3 linked regions of the Homo sapiens genome follow. The protein of the gene in region 3 interacts with the protein of the main gene of each other region in a biochemical or structural test. Each region holds a gene or a part of one and is shown on either strand. Other genes may lie near its edges.

Region 1 (6,862 bases), on a different chromosome or scaffold from region 3:
AGCTTCAGTTTGCAAGCCTGTAAATTGTGGGAGAAGCCCCTGTCTCACAGGACTGCATGAGGTAAGATACACTGTTGGGAAGCACAGTAGCGGGTTCTCGGTAAGTAAAGCTAGCTGCCATATTCCTAAAGGTGGGGGTAGGAGAGCAGGATTTTGACGATCTGAGAGGAGACGCGCACACACCCAGAAGCATGTAATAGTCGTGTGACCGTTCTGTCAGTGAGGCAAAAGGCTGTCGAAGAACGGGCCAGTTAAATCACCATCTGGGTGTCACAGCCTGCCTGACAATCATGCCTAATCTCATATCAGGGATATGCAGTAATAGCTTGCATTTGAAAGCTTTAAAAAAACAAACAAACCAAACCCTTCCACATCTTGCTAATTTTAATGTTTTGCAGTTCTGTCATTCCTCTAAGGGATCAGTGAGGGCAGTAAAACTTGAGCAGGCCTCCTCTTTCTCCCCTTCCTTTTATAGGGTAGGGGTATGTTTTTCAAAGACTTTTCAAATTGTGAACTGTAATATACAGAGATATACCATATTGGTGGTTGTGGTGTGTGTGTTTTTCTTTAAGAGAATAAAAAGAAACTTGTTTCTCTTCTGAGCCTTGAATTGCCTTCAGGCTAAAAAAACAAATGACCAATCTGGTTTCTAATTATCAAAGGACATAATAACAGCAGGTTTGGCTTTCTGATCTAGGTTTATCAAGTAGGATGGCAGATGCATCAATTAAAAAAAGCTTGGTGCTTTTGGGGGGCAGCCAACAGTTACTTTACTTTAAATGGCCATATTCTAACTTAACGGCTTGTAGCTACTTCTCAGTTGTGGGCAACACAGGATACAAGATTCTAGTGGCAAAATCAGCGAGCCCTGGAGCCTGCCTTCCACTTGAACTTTCTCTGTTGGGGGAAGTCCTTCTGCTAAATTTTGCATAAAGATCAGATGACAAAATACAGCTCCTTGCAAAAGCAGTAACTGCTTTGAAATTACCATAAATTTTTGTTGATTATGTATAATTGGGTATCTTTTTATACTAATTATTTGCATTTAATTTCACTATCTACTTAAGCAGTGGAGATGGCTTCCATATTGTCTTAGAGTGAGTAGCAAAGCAAGACAGCCCTAGCATTTTCTCCAGCAAGTGTTCTATTTTATTATGTACTTTGGAGGAATATTATTGTACCAGAAGGCATGGATGTTGAGAAACCAGCACTTGGAAAATACATTTTGATTTAATGGTAAAGCTGTATTTGTTTAAAATGGAGGAGGTGAGTATAGGAAGGTATAACTGCTTTTCTAAATGGAATGCTGATACATTTGTATCACCATTTTCCATTCCATTTAGAGTAGTTATATCTTCTCTGTACACACTAAATTTTGTGTTTAAAAGGGGTTTTTGGCCAGGCGTGGTTGCTCACGTCGGTAATCCCAGCATTTTGGGAGGCCGACGGGTGGATCACGAGGTCAGGAGATCGAGACCATCCTGGCTAACATGGTGAAACCCTGGCTCCACTAAAAATACAAAAATTAGCTGGACATGGTAGCGGGCGCCTGTTGTCCCAGCTACTCGGGAGGCTGAGGCAGGAGAATTGCTTGAACCCGGGAGGTGGAGGTTGCAGTGAGCTGAGATCATGCTACTGCACTCCAGCCTGGTGACAGAGTGAGACTCCGTCTCAAAAAAAAACAAAAAAACAAAAACCCGAGTTGTTGTCTGTTTTGGGAAGAGGCATGAAGGTATCGAGTATGATGTAAACAGACTCCAGTCACTGACTGCTGTCCCTTCCCAGGCAGGATGCATGTAGTATAACAAGTAGTGCAGGGCGCAGGCTCTGGAACCAGGCTGACTAGGTTGGAATCCTGTCACTTTCGAAGCGCTTCACTCAGTGTTGGCTCAATTTTCTTGTTTATAAAACAGGAGTAATAGTAATGCCTACCTCATGGGGTTATTGTGAAGATCAGATGAATTTATAAGCAGGCAGCACCTAGTGTAAGGCAATAATCACTGAGTAAATTCACATAGTAACTGCTCTAGTATAAGGTCAAGTATAAAGCCTGTCCTCTTCAGGGTTTCTGCTGTGGACAAGTCACCTGTCATGACTTACTCTTGCTGCCAAGAAGGGTTTAAGCGGAGGTATCAGATCATGCTCTCTGCCTTCAAGCAAAATTTTAAACATTAGGATCTGCTAAGTGGAATAGGTTTAAACACATTCTCAGTTTACTAATAAAAGAGTCAAAGATGGGAAATAGTTGGAAAATACTATTGAGAGTGTAGGCTTGGGTTTAAGTTCTCTTAGCTGTTCTGTGAACTCTTAGTTTATTAATTTTAAGGTGGGAAATCATCTAACCGTCTGGGGCCCCAGCTCTCCCACCATCTGTGAGAAGGGAAGAATGTACCTGGAAGGCAGATTCTGAATAAATTTTAAAACATACCCATACTTCCAACATAGAAAGCCTTCTTCCCCTGTCTCCTTTGATGGGCTCAGCTGAGAGCCTTTTAGAAATGCTGTGCAAGGCTCAAACATGCAGGCTGTGGATTTGGCCTTTGAAAGTGAATGTATTTTGTATCCTTTGATCCAGTTTGAGCCATATTTAGATATACCAAGATGCTATCAGTCATTCTTTGGTTGCTGGGCTTGTGGGTGTAATATTTTTGTTTCCATACTGTTCTGCATGGATTACTTTTATAAGCAGAGAAAAAAACGTTCAGAGTGTGAATTTAGCTGAAATCTGAATACATTTAAGAAACATGAAAAACGAATGCCGTCTGTGGTCAGGTCATGGGGCTGAGTACAGAAAAGACAAAGTTAAATAAGACGTCCCTCGCTGCCTTCAACATGACAAGTGCCATGGGAACAGCAGGAGAGGGAGGTGTTCTCGGAGGTCAGATAACTATGTGGAAGTGACTTTGTTCTCTTCTCTCCGTTTGTGTCCCCGTCTTTCTGCACCAGGTACCGCTGGCTGCCCAGTAGGAGAGGAGGAGTATCAGGATTTGGTGTGCCCCCTGCTAGCATGAGGCGAGCTGCTGATCAGAATGGCGGAGGCGGGAGACACAACTGGGGCCAGGGCTTTCGACTTGGAGACCAGTGAAGGGGCGGCCTCGGGCAGCCGCTCCTCTCAAGCCACATTTCCTCCCAGTGCTGGGTGCACTTAACAACTGCGTTCTGGCTAACACTGTTGGACCTGACCCACACTGAATGTAGTCTTTCAGTACGAGACAAAGTTTCTTAAATCCCGAAGAAAAATATAAGTGTTCCACAAGTTTCACGATTCTCATTCAAGTCCTTACTGCTGTGAAGAACAAATACCAACTGTGCAAATTGCAAAACTGACTACATTTTTTGGTGTCTTCTCTTCTCCCCTTTCCGTCTGAATAATGGGTTTTAGCGGGTCCTAGTCTGCTGGCATTGAGCTGGGGCTGGGTCACCAAACCCTTCCCAAAAGGACCCTTATCTCTTTCTTGCACACATGCCTCTCTCCCACTTTTCCCAACCCCCACATTTGCAACTAGAAGAGGTTGCCCATAAAATTGCTCTGCCCTTGACAGGTTCTGTTATTTATTGACTTTTGCCAAGGCTTGGTCACAACAATCATATTCACGTAATTTTCCCCCTTTGGTGGCAGAACTGTAGCAATAGGGGGAGAAGACAAGCAGCGGATGAAGCGTTTTCTCAGCTTTTGGAATTGCTTCGACCTGACATCCGTTGTAACCGTTTGCCACTTCTTCAGATATTTTTATAAAAAAGTACCACTGAGTCAGTGAGGGCCACAGATTGGTATTAATGAGATACGAGGGTTGTTGCTGGGTGTTTGTTTCCTGAGCTAAGTGATCAAGACTGTAGTGGAGTTGCAGCTAACATGGGTTAGGTTTAAACCATGGGGGATGCAACCCCTTTGCGTTTCATATGTAGGCCTACTGGCTTTGTGTAGCTGGAGTAGTTGGGTTGCTTTGTGTTAGGAGGATCCAGATCATGTTGGCTACAGGGAGATGCTCTCTTTGAGAGGCTCCTGGGCATTGATTCCATTTCAATCTCATTCTGGATATGTGTTCATTGAGTAAAGGAGGAGAGACCCTCATACGCTATTTAAATGTCACTTTTTTGCCTATCCCCCGTTTTTTGGTCATGTTTCAATTAATTGTGAGGAAGGCGCAGCTCCTCTCTGCACGTAGATCATTTTTTAAAGCTAATGTAAGCACATCTAAGGGAATAACATGATTTAAGGTTGAAATGGCTTTAGAATCATTTGGGTTTGAGGGTGTGTTATTTTGAGTCATGAATGTACAAGCTCTGTGAATCAGACCAGCTTAAATACCCACACCTTTTTTTCGTAGGTGGGCTTTTCCTATCAGAGCTTGGCTCATAACCAAATAAAGTTTTTTGAAGGCCATGGCTTTTCACACAGTTATTTTATTTTATGACGTTATCTGAAAGCAGACTGTTAGGAGCAGTATTGAGTGGCTGTCACACTTTGAGGCAACTAAAAAGGCTTCAAACGTTTTGATCAGTTTCTTTTCAGGAAACATTGTGCTCTAACAGTATGACTATTCTTTCCCCCACTCTTAAACAGTGTGATGTGTGTTATCCTAGGAAATGAGAGTTGGCAAACAACTTCTCATTTTGAATAGAGTTTGTGTGTACCTCTCCATATTTAATTTATATGATAAAATAGGTGGGGAGAGTCTGAACCTTAACTGTCATGTTTTGTTGTTCATCTGTGGCCACAATAAAGTTTACTTGTAAAATTTTAGAGGCCATTACTCCAATTATGTTGCACGTACACTCATTGTACAGGCGTGGAGACTCATTGTATGTATAAGAATATTCTGACAGTGAGTGACCCGGAGTCTCTGGTGTACCCTCTTACCAGTCAGCTGCCTGCGAGCAGTCATTTTTTCCTAAAGGTTTACAAGTATTTAGAACTCTTCAGTTCAGGGCAAAATGTTCATGAAGTTATTCCTCTTAAACATGGTTAGGAAGCTGATGACGTTATTGATTTTGTCTGGATTATGTTTCTGGAATAATTTTACCAAAACAAGCTATTTGAGTTTTGACTTGACAAGGCAAAACATGACAGTGGATTCTCTTTACAAATGGAAAAAAAAAATCCTTATTTTGTATAAAGGACTTCCCTTTTTGTAAACTAATCCTTTTTATTGGTAAAAATTGTAAATTAAAATGTGCAACTTGAAGGTTGTCTGTGTTAAGTTTCCATGTCCCTGCTCTGCTGTCTCTTAGATATCACATAATTTGTGTAACCAATTATCTCTTGAAGAGCATTTAGGAAGTACCCAGTATTTTTTGCTGGATTAATTCCTGGATGCAGAATTCCTGGGTTTTCATTTTAATGAAGGAGGATGCTTGCTAACTTTGAGTGAGGAGTCATATCTGATTGTAGCATGCTTTATGGCATTTTTATAGCTTCTACCCATGGATCTGAGCCCTGGAACTTTATAAAATTAGTTTAATCCTGTTTCCTCATAAGGCACACACAGACTAGATAGCAGGTGCCATGACATTCCTGAGCCCTTTTTTTTTTTTTTCCTCGAGGGTGAACATCCCAGTCTGTATCTTGGGCCTTCGACAGGCCAACTTCACTCATCACAAGGTGAGGTGACAGGAAGCAGGTTGTATGTATGTCCCTCTTCTATTACTGGGGAAATACTGAAGCAATAGAAAAAGATCCCGCTTATTTAGAAGGACACATTGCCAGTATCATTGTGTTCTAAGCTACCTTTTGAATGACATGGATCTAATAATAGGCAATGTTGCAGTTGCCAACATCTTCGTTTATTGCCAACTCTGTTTCTGAGGTCCCTGCCCCTCTTACACTTTCAGCAGTAACTTAACACTCTGAATAACTAACCTTTGAAAGAAGTTACTCCTTTCTGGACTTTATACTGTTTTTTTCTTAGAAGGCTGGGCTGAGCAAATGGGTTTACTGGCAGTTCACTTGTTTGCCTTCCAGAGTGACTGGTGATCAGAATTGGCCAGGAATACCATGTCCTGTGTTTACTTCTTTCTTAACCCTCCCTCCCACCTTCCCTCCCTGTCCCTCCCTCTTTCTCTCCCTCTCTCCCTCTCTGTCTCTTCTTTCTTTGTTTTTTTGAGACAGGATCTCAGTCTGTCACCCAGGTTGGAGTGTAGTGGCATGATCTCGGCTCGCTGCAACCTCTGCCTCCCAGGTTCAGATGATCCTCCCACCTCAGCCTCCTGAGTAGCTGGGACCACAAGTGTGTGCCACCACACTCGGCTAATTTTTTGTATTTTTGTTCGAGATGGAGTTTCACCATGTGGCCCAGGCTGGTCTTAAACTCCTGAGCTCAGGCAAGTCACCTGCCTCGGCCTCTCAAAGTGCTGGGATTACAGGCCTGAGCCACGGTGCCCAGCCTTTCCCACGATTTATATGTGTGGTTTAAACCTAGGCTCCTTCCCGTACGGTCCCCTTATCTCACATCAACTCTGCTTGTTCCAGTAGGAACGCCGTGTTCGGGGCACACCTGGGCACTGAGCATTAATGTGCCAGGTACTTTATGAAAAAGCCTCCAATTTACGGTTTTTAAAATCTGGCTATACATAAGCATTAAACTTGAGATTTTAAAAAAATGCAGGTATCTTGGCTCATTCCCATTCTACATACTTTTGAAGTTGATTCTGACGTTCAGCTGGATTTGGGAACTTGTGTTTAAACAAACTTGTGAAATAGTATTATCCCCATTTTCCAGATGAGGAAACTTAAGCTTCAAGTCCCTTGATTAAAATCAGGCAGCGGCCAGGTACGGTGGCTCACGCCTGTAATCCCAGCTCTTTGGGAGGCTGAGGTGGGTGGACCTTCTGAGGTTGGGAGTTCGAGACCAGCCTGACCAAC
Region 2 (8,229 bases), on a different chromosome or scaffold from region 3:
AAGTGCTGGGATTATAGATGTGAGCCACCGCGCCTGGCCTAGACTTACTCTCTTGAGAGAGTTGTTTAGAATTAAAGTGTTCTCTGTTTACAATTCAATAAAGTTAATAAAAAAGATAGCTGAAGCTGGGTGTGGTAGCTCACACCTGTAATCCCAGCAATTTGGGAGGCTGAGGTGGGTGGATCACTTAAGTCCAGGAGTTTGAGACCAGACTGGGCAACATGGCAAAACCCCATCTCGACAAAAAATACAAAAATTAGCTGGGCATGGTGGCATGCACCTGTAGTCCCAGCTACCTGGGAGGCTGAAGTGGGAGGATCACTTGAGTCCGGGAGGCAGAAGTTGCAGTGAACAGTGACCGTGCCACTGCACTCTAGCCTAGGTGATAAAGCAAGACCTTGCCTCAAACAAAAAAAAAGCAAACCCTGAAAAGTCTACATGCATATTGAATGTTTAAAAACAAATAAAATGAATTAGATAAAGCAAATATCTTGAAAGATAAAACTGTGAAAAATTTTATACTAAGAAATGAGCCAACTTATTTGACATTGATAAATTATTTCCTAGAGAAAAGTGTAATTGAAGTTTGACTAAAGAAAAAAAAAAACAAACAGCCTAAATAATTGTATAGCCAGTCAAGTAATTCAATCAGAAAAATCTTAATCCAGGAAACACAGGCCCAGATGGTTATATATGCAAGTTCTTCCTCACACTCAAGCAATAAATTGCTCTTAGATATTCTAAAAATAGAGAAAGAACATATCCCCCAACTCATTCTCTGAGGTCGGCATAACCTTGATCACCAAAACCACACAAGGATAGGAGAAAGGTAAACTACAGATCATTGTCACTTGATACAGATACATAGATTGTAGATAAAATATTGACAAAAGAATCTGGTCATATATAAGGAAGATTCTATACGGCAGCTGAGTGTAATAAAGCTCCAGTAGTTAAGACACCATATGGCATTGGTTCTGGAGTAGACAAGTAGGCCAGTGGAAGAAAGCTTTATATACAAAGAATCTTGGTCCACCACTGAGGCAGCATTGATGTCACCAGGCAAAGGAGATACTGGGGTTGCGGAATCTGGGATATTGACTATTCCTAAGATGAAAAAACAAATTGAGTTCCTAACTCATACCATAGTCAAAAATAAATTGCAGATGAATGGGTAAATAATATGTGGTACACACATACAATGTAATATTATTCAACATTAAAAAGGAAGGGAATTCTGACACATGCTACCACATGGATGAACATTCTGCTCAGTGAAATAAACCAGATGCAGACAGACAAATACTACATTCCGCTTACATGAGTACTTAGAGTAGTCAAACTCATGGGAGACAGAAAGTAGAATCACCTGGACACCGTGGTTCACACCTGGCATCCCAGCACTTTGGGAGGCCAAGGTTGGAGGATTGTTTGAGCCCAGGAGTTTGAGAGTAGCCTGGGTAACATAGTGTGATCCTGTCACTACAAAAAATTAATGAAAAAATTTTAAAATTAGCTGGGCGTAGTGGCATGTGCCTAGTTACAGCTATTCAGGAGGCTGAGGCGGGAGGATCAGTTGAGTCTGCAGTGAGCCAGGGTCAAGGCACTGCACTCCAGCCTGGGGGACTGAGCAAGACCCTGCCTCAAGGGAAAAAAAAAAAAAAAAAGAATGGTGGTTGCCAGGGCCTCGAGGAAGCAGGAATCAAAAGTGAATGTTTAGAAACGTATAGTAATTTGGCATTGTCATAACCTCCACACACATGGCCACAGAACCAGTACTTGTCTTGGTGAGCTCTGGGCGTCTGGTGTGTGTTGTGTCTTGCTTCTGTGCAGGAGGACCACATGGCAGTCCAGCAGACTGCACATTTTTAAAAACTAGGTCTTCCCAGGTAGTTTGAGGAGCACCAACCTAGAAAATTGGTCCCATAGTTTAAAAAAAAAGTATTTAATATTATGCCAATACATAAAAGTAAATGGAAAATGTCACAGGAATATTTATCCTTACTAAATGCAATAGTACTTCTAGGGTACTGTCTTCCAATTCTTTCCTTTTCAGTTCTGCTTGCAGCCCTGTTGGTTTTATGACCCACTGATTATTTGTGGCCTTTTGAAAACATGAAAACGGTAGAGAAGCATGAGCCAAGCCCTAGGAGACATGTTTGAATGTTTATAGTAGTGTCATTAACACAGCAAAATGATTGGAAACAGGCCGGATGCTCAGTGGATAAGTGGTAGTATATCCACACAATGACAGATCCTTTTTTTATTCCTTATCTATTCAATAATTATGACACTTTTAAAAGTAGATTTGGCCCTGCTTAGGTTTTTTTTTTAAATGGTGGGACTATCCAGACTTTTTAAAATGGTTGTAAAAGCAAGACATACTGGCCGGGCATGGTGGCCCATGCCTGTAATCCCAGCACTTTGGGAGGCTGAGGCGGGTGGATCACAACGTCAGGAGTTCAAGACCAGCCTGGCCAACATAGTGAAACACCATCTCTACTAAAAACACAAAAATTAGCTGGGTGTGGTGGCACGCACCTGTAGTCCCAGTTACTTGGGAGGCTGAGGCAAGAGAATCGCTGGAACCCGGGAGGCGGAGGTTGCAGTGAGCCAAGACCATACCATTGCACTCCAGCTTGGGTGCCAGAGCGAGCCTCCATCTCGAAAAAAAAAAAAAAAAAAAAGCAAGACAGACTTTAGATAAAAGCAAAGAACCTGAAATGATGCAGGAAAAAGTAGATAGGGCCACTTTTAATTTCTATGCTTCTGGAGTTTGTTTGTTTGCTTGTTTGTTTGTTTGTTTTTGACACAGAGTCTCGCTCTGTTGCCCAGGCTGGAGTGCAGTGGCCCGATCTCAGCTTACTGCAAGCTCCACCTCCTGGGTTCACACCATTCTCCTGCCTCAGCCTCCCGAATAGCTGGGACTACAGGCACCTGCCACCACTCCCAGCTAATTTTTTGTATTTTTTAGTAGAGACGGGTCTTCACCATGTTAGCAAGGATGGTCTCATTTGCCTGACCTCGTGATCTGCCCTCCTCGGCCTCCCAAAGTGCTGGGATTACAGGCGTGAGCCACCACGCACGGCCCTGCTTCTGGACATTTTTTATGTGCCTTTTTTACATAGGTGAGGTCATCTTAGACACAAGCAACATGACTGGTTTTACAATTATTTTCCTGTTGGCTGCGTAGCATACCATTGTATAACTGTAAATTTACATATGAAGAAATATAATTCAGCTGCATTTTGAGTATACAGACAGTCCCTGACCATGGTTCTACCTAGAATTTTTCAACTTTATTATGATGCAAACATGATACACATTCAGTAAAAACCATACTTTGAATACCTATACAACCATTCTGTTTTTGATCTTCAGTACAGTATTCAATAAATTACATGAGTTATTCAACATTTTATTATAAAATAAGCTTTATAGTAGATGATTTTGCCCAACTGTAGGCTAATGTATGTGTTCTGAGAATGGTTAAGGCAGGCTGCACTATGATGTTTGGTAGGTTAGGAATATTAATACATTTTTAACTTATAAGTTTATGGGACTTGGTTCCATCATAAGTCAAGGAGCATCTGTACAGTGGTATTAGTGACGTTGGTATGAGCATTCTTAGAATTTTCTCATTGGGTATAGCTAGTTATTTACTTAGAATAAATTTCGAAGGCCGAGTGCGGTGGCTTATGTCTGTAATCCCAGTTCTTTGTGTGGCCGAGGTGGGCGGATCACCTGAGGTCAGGAGTTCGAGACCAGCCTGGCCAACATGGTGAAACCCCATCTCTACAACAATACAAAAATTAGCCAGGTGTAGTGGCACATGCCTATAGTCCCAGCTACTAGGGAGGCTGAGGCAGGAGAAGTGCTTGAACCCTGGAGGCGGAGGTTGCAGTGAGCCAAGATCGCACCACTGCACTCCAGCCTGGGCGATAGAGCGAGATTCTGTCTAAAAATAAATAAATAAAATAAATAGTAAAGTTCCAGAAGTGAACTTTCCAGGTTAAAGGTTGTTAGTGTCTTTTGCAGTTAGCTGTATAACTACCTTGTCTAATTTGAACCATATCTGGGGAACAGCATCTCTTCAGCGATGGGCACAGGGCAGCCTGTCCCTTATGGCAGTGTTGTCACAGCAAGAAGTGCAGCTGTAGGTTGTGTCATGGGCATGAATGCTGTGTCATTCGCAGGAGCCAGTAGAGCCACAGTAACATGGACAGCGACAGCTCCAGTGCTGCCAGGAAACCATCCAACTGATTTCTGTGTTTGCCCCACAGATCTACGAACTGCGTGTGATGGAGACCAAACCCGACAAGGCAGTGTCCATCATTGAGTGTGACATGAACGTGAGTGGCTCTGTCCAGTTACAGTGAGCCTGGGCCCTGGGAGGATGGGCAGTTGGTGACCACTGCAGGCCAGGGTGTCAGGAGGGCATCAAACAGCCCCTGGGACTCTGGGTAAAGAGGAGGAAGATGCTGTCAGAACATCATGAGGAGACTGTGACCTTGTGATCTATCTCAGGGCCAGTTGGGGCAACAGAGTTTGCTGCCAGTGCTGCCATGGTTAGCTCTGACCCGTTGAGGAGTGAATATTCTTTTTTTTTTTGAGACTTAGTTTCACTCCTGTTGCCCAGGCTGGAGTGCAGTGGTGCGATCTTGGCTCACTACAACCTCCACCTCCCAGGTTCAAGCGATTCTCCTGCCTCAGCCTCCCGAGTAGCTGGGATTACAGGCATGTGCCACCAGGCCCGGCTAGTTTTGTATTTTGGTAGAGACAGGGTTTTACCATGTTGGCCAAGCTGGTCTCAAACTCCTGACCTCAGGTAATCCACCCGCCTCGGCCTCCCAAAGTGCTGAGATTACAGGTGTGGGCCACCGCGCCTGGCCGAGGAGTGAATATGCTTAAGAGCTAAGGAAGCGTACTGAACCTTCTGAGTAGGAATGAAGTGCTGATGCACACAGCATCCTGGTTGTATTACTAGGGAATACTGCTGAGCAAAAAAAGCCAATCCCAAAAAGTTACTTCGTTATATAACATCCTCAAAGTGACAGAACTTTCGAAATGGAAGACAGACCAGTGGTTGCCAGGGCTTAGGACTGGTGGAGGGGGCTGGGAGACAGCTGGGTATGGTTATAAAAAGACAACATGGGCAGTCCTAGTGGTGGTGAAACTGTTCTACATCTCAACTGTGGTGGATACATGCCCCACACAGTGATTACATTGTGTAGAACTAAAGATACCCATGAACAAAAACATGTAAAACTGGGGAAATCTGAATAAGAGCAGTGGGTTGTGCCAGTGTTGATATCCTGGCAGCAATACTTTACTGTAATTTTGTAAGATGCTACCGTTGGGAAAACTGGGCAAGTGTACAAGGCATCTTTTGTATTATTTCTTAAAACTGCATGTGAATCTACAGTTGTCTCAATTAAAAACAAAAAAGGAAGCCAAGGGTGGTCATGTCTCAATATTTTACTTTTAAAATCCTGGAAACACAGGTGGACTTTGATGCTCCCCTGGGCTACAAAGAACCCGAAAGACAAGTCCAGCATGAGGAGTCGACAGTAAGTGTTATCCTCAGTGTCCTTTGCTGTCCTGCTGCATGCTGCTTTTGAGTTCCTGGCAGTGGCTCGTGGGTGGCCTCTGCTAGTGTTGGTGTAGTCATATCCTCTGCGTCCCTTCCAGCCATGCTTCCGGGGGACATCCTAGCCGGGGGTGGGGGTGAGAGGGAAGCTGGGTGTCCCCGCTGAGGAGCTCACCTGTTTTTCTTTTTCCCTGTCAGGAAGGTGAAGCCGACCACAGTGGCTATGCTGGAGAGCTGGGCTTCCGCGTGAGTACCAGACCACTTGACTTATATTGCTGTGCCCTCTGCTCCTTGAAATTAGAGCACTCACTCAAGGTGTTCTCCATGATGCTCGATGGACATCAGCAGGGGTTAGGCCTCTGGGTACCTGTGCATATGCAAATCTGCCACTCGCTCAGTTACCAAACCCTTTTGTATCCACTCTCTCCTGGAATCTTCCCAACAGCCCCATAAGGCAGCCCAGATTTTTAAGAATTTCTAACCTACCGAAGAGTTTAAATAGTACAGTAGACATATACTGTTCCCTTAGGTTCACCAAAAGTTACCACATTTGCTTTCTCTCTCTTGTAAATCATGTTTCCTTTTTTCTTTGCCTGTACCATGTAGGTTGCAAACATGACCCTTAGCATAACTACTGGCAAGGCTCCATGGGAAACAGGTGGAGGTGGTTCATGTGTGGGCACTGAGGTGGCAGGAGGTGCCAGGAAGCAGCAGAGAGGGCAGAATGATGGGAAGCTGAGCTATGGGGCAGTCACAACAGTAGCCTTAGCCCACCCATAGAGCTTGAACTGGGTGGCCCTGCAGAGGCAGGGATCAGGTCTTTTAACCCAACACTGACTGCTGGCTGCCCTTGGCCAAGTGGCTGTCTTCAGCTCATGGCCACCCCCTGAGGAACTGGGCAGAGTTCTTAGCTGCCAGCACCCCAGCAGTTGAGGAGTCAGGGCTTCAGTCCTGAAGGGGTCTGCACAGCACCCCCAGCTCACATCCCTGCAGTGATCTCCAAGCAAAGGACATATCGTCCTCACACTTGGGCTTATTATATGACTCACCTACTTCCTGTCTAGGCTTTCTCTGGATCTGGCAATAGACTGGATGGAAAGAAGAAAGGGGTAGAGCCCAGCCCCTCCCCAATCAAGCCTGGAGATATTAAAAGGTAGGTCTGTCCTGGCTCTCCTCCAGGACAGGAGGAGGATCTGTGCCAGCCCGCTGGGGTCGGGCAGCCTCACCCCAGTTCTGGAGACAAAGCCTGGGTCAGTAGTCTCCCAAGGGACTAAAACCCTTAGCTGCTCTCCTTGGTGGGGTGGAGCACAACATGCCCCTCCTTCCACAGTGCCACCCCCAGTACCACTGTGGTCCAGCCTCTCTCCATACCTCTCCATACCCCCAATTCAGCCTCTTCTTGCCCCCACTGGCTTTCCTAAGATGCGAGTCTGATTAGATCTGTCTCTTACTCAAAACCTTTCTGGTCCCTATTTGGTGATCTGCCTATTTTCCTGTTTTGTGACTTGGAATTATTAATCAGGTCACATTATCTCAGTTCCCCTGAAAGTTCCCTGAGGAGCTACCTCAGATGTGCTTCTGTTGCTGGGTCCGGGGACCCACAGCAGACCCTTCCTCTGGTGGCCATGATGGCAGGGGCAGGGCTGAGGTGTGTCAGTTGTCTGTTGTGTGTGTGAAATCAGAATACTGGAGTGAGAGTCTAGCCACCTCAGGGGGTTCTGTGAAGCTCAGGACAGTGACAGTGAGGGCTTCCCAATCCTTCAGATGACCCCTCTCCATAGACAGGTACAGAGCCTAAAGCCCCTGGCCCTATACCCAATATTGATACCAAACCAAGAAGTCAGTTACTTTCTGCTTCCCTCCTGGGAGGATGCCAGGAAGCACCAAAGGGCCCAGGTGGGGTGCAGCAGCATCTTTTCTGCGTTCCTCTTGACTGTCAAAAATGAATTTTAGTCCTTTTTTCCTGGAAATAACATTTCTCTGTCTCTGTCTCTTCTTACAGAGGAATTCCCAATTATGAATTTAAACTTGGTAAGATAACTTTCATCAGAAATTCACGTCCCCTTGTCAAAAAGGTTGAAGAGGTGAGTGTATTTCCTTGTATTTCCTTGGTTGGTAATGAGGAGATTTATTTGCTAGTGATGACTGAAGTTCTTGGCATTCTGAGTAGGGGTGTGCATTAGTCTGTTTCCAAGCTGCTGGTAAAGATGTACCCGAGACTGGGCAATTTACAAAAGAAAGAGGTTTAATGGACTTACAGTTCACATGGCTGGGGAGGCCTCACAATCATGGCAGGGGGCAAGTCACATCTTACATGGATGGTAGCAGGCAGAGAAAAAGCTGGTGCAGGGAAACACCTACTTATAAAACCATCAGATCTCATGAGACTTATTCACTATCATGATAACAGCACGGAAAAGACCCGCCCTCATGACTCAGTTACCTCCCACCGACTCAGTTACCTCCCACCTGGTCCCTCCCACAACACGTGGTAATTCAAGATGAGATTTGGGTGGGGACGCAGCCAAACCACATGAGGGTGTCTGTCATGTTTTCCCTTTCCTAGGGTCCCTCTGCTCCCTGGTGTCCTGTTTTTTTCTGTAGAGCTGGTGTAGGGTGTATGAAACAGAAGACTTGCA
Region 3 (4,656 bases):
ATCTACACGTTCAACAAAGACCAGGACCGGGTGAAGCTGGGTGTGGACACCATTGCCAAGTGAGCGTGTGGCCCCTTTGCCCTGCCTGGCCCCTCCAGCTCATCCCAGCACCCCTCCCACTGGGGCTGTCACCCCCTCTGGCCCCCTCATTACCTGCTGAGGTGGGTTGGGAAGGAGCATAGGCCGAGAGTGAGGCAGCTCCACCCAGAGGCCTCAGGCAAAGGGCTGGGCCTCCTTGGGCCTCAGTTTACCCGTGTGCAAAATGAAGGTGTTGAAGGAATCAGGGGTTTCCCACCCTGGCTTCCTTGGGGAACATGTGGAGGAGGCAGGGTCCCACCCCACTCCCCGGGTCTCAGGATCGGGGGCAGGCCTGGAGGTCCACGCTGCCCGCCAACGCCGAGGGAGCACCCCGCAGGAGCCCCCTGCTGGCACTGCGGCCCTTCAGCTCTGGCTCTCCACTCTTCCGGCACTGTGGCTTCCCCACCGCTGTGGTTAATTGTGCCCTTCCAGGGCTGGTGGGACGGTGAGGGGTTCCGTGGGGCTCCTGCTGGCACCAGGGGTGGGCTCCATGGGGTGTCCGAGGTGTGCCTTCCACCCGGAGATGGTCTGCTGCCCTCGCGTCACTGGGCCGCTTCTTCCCTCTGACTAGAGGCCAAGTGTGGCTGAGCTGCTGTTACCTGGAGCAGGAGGCACAGAGGGGCCGGGTGGGCAGCCTGGGCTGTGCCCCACTCACCTTCTCCACCTACCCCAGGTACCTGGACAACATCCACCTGCACCCCGAGGAGGAGAAGTACCGGAAGATCAAGCTGCAGAACAAGGTGTTTCAGGTGGGCGTGCCTTCTGGCCCCCGGGGCCCAGGCTGGGGGTGGGGGCAGCTGGCCTGCAGGAGCCGGTGGTGGCCCACACCAGGCGGTGGGCTCCCTGGAGGAGCTAGCGAGAGTTGAGCCACAAGCAGTGAAGGGTTCGGCCAGTAGAAGGTAGCAGGACAAGATGGAGAGCAAGACTTTTATGCACCGGTCACCCCAAATCAACAAATTCTGCCTCTCCTCACCTGCATCCTTTTCCTCCTCTTCAGCTGGGCTTGTTTGGGAACATGTCGACTCTGGGGAGGTTTCTCATGCAAACCAGATGTCTGGTTCTTCTGGGGGAAAGGGCAGGGACTGGGGTCCTGGGCGGTGTTAGCCTCGCATCAGGCCCCAGCAGTGTCTGGCTCCTCAGCCTCACTCTTCGTGCCTGGTTGTGACTCTTTCCTCTGTGCAGAGCTGTTGGAGACTCCACAGCCCCCACCGTAGAAAAGCAGGTTTGCATCCAGCACTGAGGCACCCCCAGGGCTGGGCCCCATCCAGGGGTCGACAGCTGCTCCCAATAGCGAGAGCCGGGCCCCTGGACTGGGTGGGGTGTGGCCAGGCCATGGAGGAAGCCAGGGGCCCCCAGTGACGCCCATCTCCACCCCCAGGAGCGCATTAACTGCCTGGAAGGGACCCACGAGTTTTTTGAGGCCATTGGGTTCCAGAAGGTGTTGCTTCCCGCCCAGGATCAGGGTAAGTGGACAGGGCCTGGCTGAGTAGGGAATGGGGACGAGGGGCCTCGGGGCAGGAGGGCCCGGCTTGGGGGTCTCTCCATTGCACAGTGACACCCATGTCCTGCCACGCTGTAGAGGACCCCGAGGAGTTCTACGTGCTGAGCGAGACCACCTTGGCCCAGCCCCAGAGCCTGGAGAGGCACAAGGAACAGCTGCTGGCTGCGGAGCCCGTGCGCGCCAAGCTGGACAGGCAGCGCCGCGTCTTCCAGCCCTCGCCCCTGGCCTCGCAGTTCGAACTGCCTGGGGACTTCTTCAACCTCACAGCAGAGGAGATCAAGCGGGAGCAGAGGCTCAGGTGGGCCTGACGTCCGCGGAGCAGAGTGGGGCGGGGCGGGGTGGAAGAACCCCGGCCAGCCCTCGTGACCTGGCCCGCGTGTGCAGGTCCGAGGCGGTGGAGCGGCTGAGCGTGCTGCGGACCAAGGCCATGCGGGAGAAGGAGGAGCAGCGGGGGCTGCGCAAGTACAACTACACGCTGCTGCGCGTGCGCCTCCCCGATGGCTGCCTCCTGCAGGGTGGGCACCAACGATGCCCGTGGAGGGCGGCTCGGGTTGGTAGGGGGCCCTGGGCCCCACCCGCTCTGACTCCCCCACTCCCCAGGCACTTTCTACGCTCGGGAGCGGCTGGGGGCGGTGTACGGGTTCGTCCGGGAGGCCCTGCAGAGCGACTGGCTGCCTTTTGAGCTGCTGGCCTCGGGAGGGCAGAAGCTGTCCGAGGACGAGAACCTGGCCTTGAACGAGTGCGGGCTGGTGAGTGTCGGCCCGCAGGAGCACCGCTGACCCGATGCCTCTGCAGGTTCTCCTGGGACCGGCACAGACACCCCCAGGAGGGAGCCTCCTTGTTCTCAGAGCAGGGGGCCTGGGCAGGTCCCTGGGTTTGAATCCTGCTTTCCCACTTACTGGCAGCAGGGCCTCGAGCAAGTTCATAACTACTCCACGCCTCAGTTTCCCCATCAAATGGGAGCGGTGACGTGCGTTAGCTAGTGCAGTAGGTTTAGGCTTAGGTCCTGGAGTCCCGGAGGGAGAGGGCAGGAGGCCTGGGTGCGAGCCACAGCCTCCACCAGCTGAGATGGCTTCCAGGCCGGGGCATCCCCGCGCCCAGGTTGCCCGCTGAGTTCCCTGCCGCGGCAAGGGCCGACTCTCGGTCTCAGAGTGACGGCCTACCCCTACCGCAGGTGCCCTCTGCCCTCCTGACCTTCTCGTGGGACATGGCTGTGCTGGAGGACATCAAGGCCGCGGGGGCCGAGCCGGACTCCATCCTGAAACCCGAGCTCCTGTCAGCCATCGAGAAGCTCTTGTGAAATAAAAGCAGGGTTGGCCTCAGCCCTGTGGGTCTGTCTCATGCTCTCCCTGTTCCTCTCCCCGCCACCCCAGGGCCTCCAAGCCACCTCTGGAAATACTTGGCTCTGCCCCATGGGCACGGGAGGGGCGCCAGCCGTGGAGCTGTGGAATTGGGCCCCGTGGCAGAGCCCCCATCCCTTGGGGGCTGTGGGGATGCGCCCAAGCCCCCGAGGGAGAGGCCTGGGGACACCAACAAATCTAAGCCCTCCCTAGCTGCTTGGTAACTGTGTCATGAAGCTGCCGGACAGACACACGTGGCATCTCCCTGGGCAGGAGAGCAGGCCTGCAGCATGGGTCCTGTTCCCGTGTGCCGTGGGTGGCAGTGGCTGCACCTGGCACTAGGGCTGCTCTGTGGATGTGGGTGACAACGGCAGGAGGGGATGCTGGCCTTCCTGCACATAGACCTGCAGTTAGTAAATCATAAGCCCAAATAAACAGGTTGTTTGAATATAGTTTCTTGGTTCTCCGTTGAAACCGTGGGACACAGGGCAGGCCCACCTGCTGAAGAGCGGATGGCTTGGGGGCTGGGTGTGGCTCCCTGTCAAGGTGGGACCATGTGGATACCTGTTCTCAGGCCAGCACCTGGCCACAAGTGCCCGATGAGCCACCCACCTGGGGAGGAAGTCCCGTGCGCTAGGGGAGGCTGTGCTGTGCCCACAAAGGCCCAGTCCCTGCAGGGGAGGCGAGTGCTGTCACAGGCCTGGCTTCCCTGTGGCCAGAGGGACAGGGTGTCCTGAGACGGCCACATCCTATTCCTGGAACCTGCAGATGCGCAACTTCACCTGGCAAGAGGGGCTTGGGTATGATGAAAGGTCTTGAGCTGGGAGATGATCCTGGGTGGTCCGGGACCCAGTGTCCTCACAAGAGGTGGCAGGAGGGTGAATCAGAGAGAGACTGGAAGAGGCTGCGCATGGCTGTGAAGGTGGAGGAAGGGACCCCGAGCTGAGGGATGCAGCGCCTCCGAGCACTGGGAAACTCTCCAGGAGGGCCTGGTCCTGCCCACAGCTTGATGTTAGCCTGGCGGGGCATGTGTGCACTCTGACCCCCAAGCTGTGAGATGGTGACTTGCTTTAAGCCACCAGGTTTGTGGTACAGCAGCCCCAGGAGACACAGGGACTCTGCCCTGCAGTGTGGAAGGCATGTGTGCCCCGGCCCCACTGCTGACTTGGGGATGCAGGTCTGCACCTGGGGGAGGTGCCCGGGGCCTATGCTCGTGCCCCTGACCTTGCATTGGTCCCTCCCTCGCCCCCGGCACTGCCCCAGCTGGTGTGGGCACCCGGCCTGTTGAGAATGGAGGCTGTCACTCCAGTCCTGCGTCCTGCAGGCCCCAGGACCTGATTCCGGGTTGTCGGGAGCCCCTGTAAAGCTCATCAAAGGTGTGGCACAGGGGCAGCCTCTGCTTCAGGCACAGCTGAATCCTGCTTCCCAGCAGGAAGGCCTGGCCCGGGCGCCCTGCCGTCCCTGACTGGGTGGATGGAGGTAGCTGACACTTTTCCCACATAGGGTTCCCTGAAGGGAAGCTTAGGACTTCAGGTGGGGTGTGGCTGGGAAGAGCAGGACTGGCGAGCGTGACCCTCCCCGTGGCTGCGTGTGCTCTGAGCTGCTCAGTACCACAGCGGCTGTCGCCTGTCCTCCCTCGGACAGTGTGGATAAAGCCCACTCAACCTGGGGCGGGGAGGAGGTCACCTTCTAGCTCCAGCACTCGCAAAAGATGCACCTGACCTGGGGTGGGCTCTC

What was found.
Region 1: the proteins of UBXN6 (region 3) and DERL1 form a complex in vitro, tested with the Homo sapiens proteins (one study listed by BioGRID).
Region 2: the proteins of UBXN6 (region 3) and UFD1 form a complex in vitro, tested with the Homo sapiens proteins (one study listed by BioGRID).

The regions. Positions count from the first base shown.
Region 1 is NC_000008.11:123,011,670-123,018,531, reverse strand, and holds the end of DERL1 (derlin-1), read left to right. Parts: intron 1-2,946; coding exon 2,947-3,085; 3' UTR 3,086-5,362; downstream 5,363-6,862. UniProt on the Homo sapiens protein: Functional component of endoplasmic reticulum-associated degradation (ERAD) for misfolded lumenal proteins. Forms homotetramers which encircle a large channel traversing the endoplasmic reticulum (ER) membrane.
Region 2 is NC_000022.11:19,454,194-19,462,422, reverse strand, and holds part of UFD1 (ubiquitin recognition factor in ER-associated degradation protein 1), read left to right. Parts: intron 1-4,283; coding exon 4,284-4,352; intron 4,353-5,504; coding exon 5,505-5,570; intron 5,571-5,788; coding exon 5,789-5,836; intron 5,837-6,654; coding exon 6,655-6,743; intron 6,744-7,592; coding exon 7,593-7,674; intron 7,675-8,229. UniProt on the Homo sapiens protein: Essential component of the ubiquitin-dependent proteolytic pathway which degrades ubiquitin fusion proteins.
Region 3 is NC_000019.10:4,443,721-4,448,376, reverse strand, and holds the end of UBXN6 (UBX domain-containing protein 6), read left to right. Parts: coding exon 1-59; exon of another isoform or gene 60-751; coding exon 752-827; exon of another isoform or gene 828-1,189; coding exon of another isoform or gene 1,190-1,272; exon of another isoform or gene 1,273-1,456; coding exon 1,457-1,541; exon of another isoform or gene 1,542-1,657; coding exon 1,658-1,877; exon of another isoform or gene 1,878-1,963; coding exon 1,964-2,094; exon of another isoform or gene 2,095-2,179; coding exon 2,180-2,328; exon of another isoform or gene 2,329-2,753; coding exon 2,754-2,879; 3' UTR 2,880-3,371; downstream 3,372-4,656. UniProt on the Homo sapiens protein: May negatively regulate the ATPase activity of VCP, an ATP-driven segregase that associates with different cofactors to control a wide variety of cellular processes.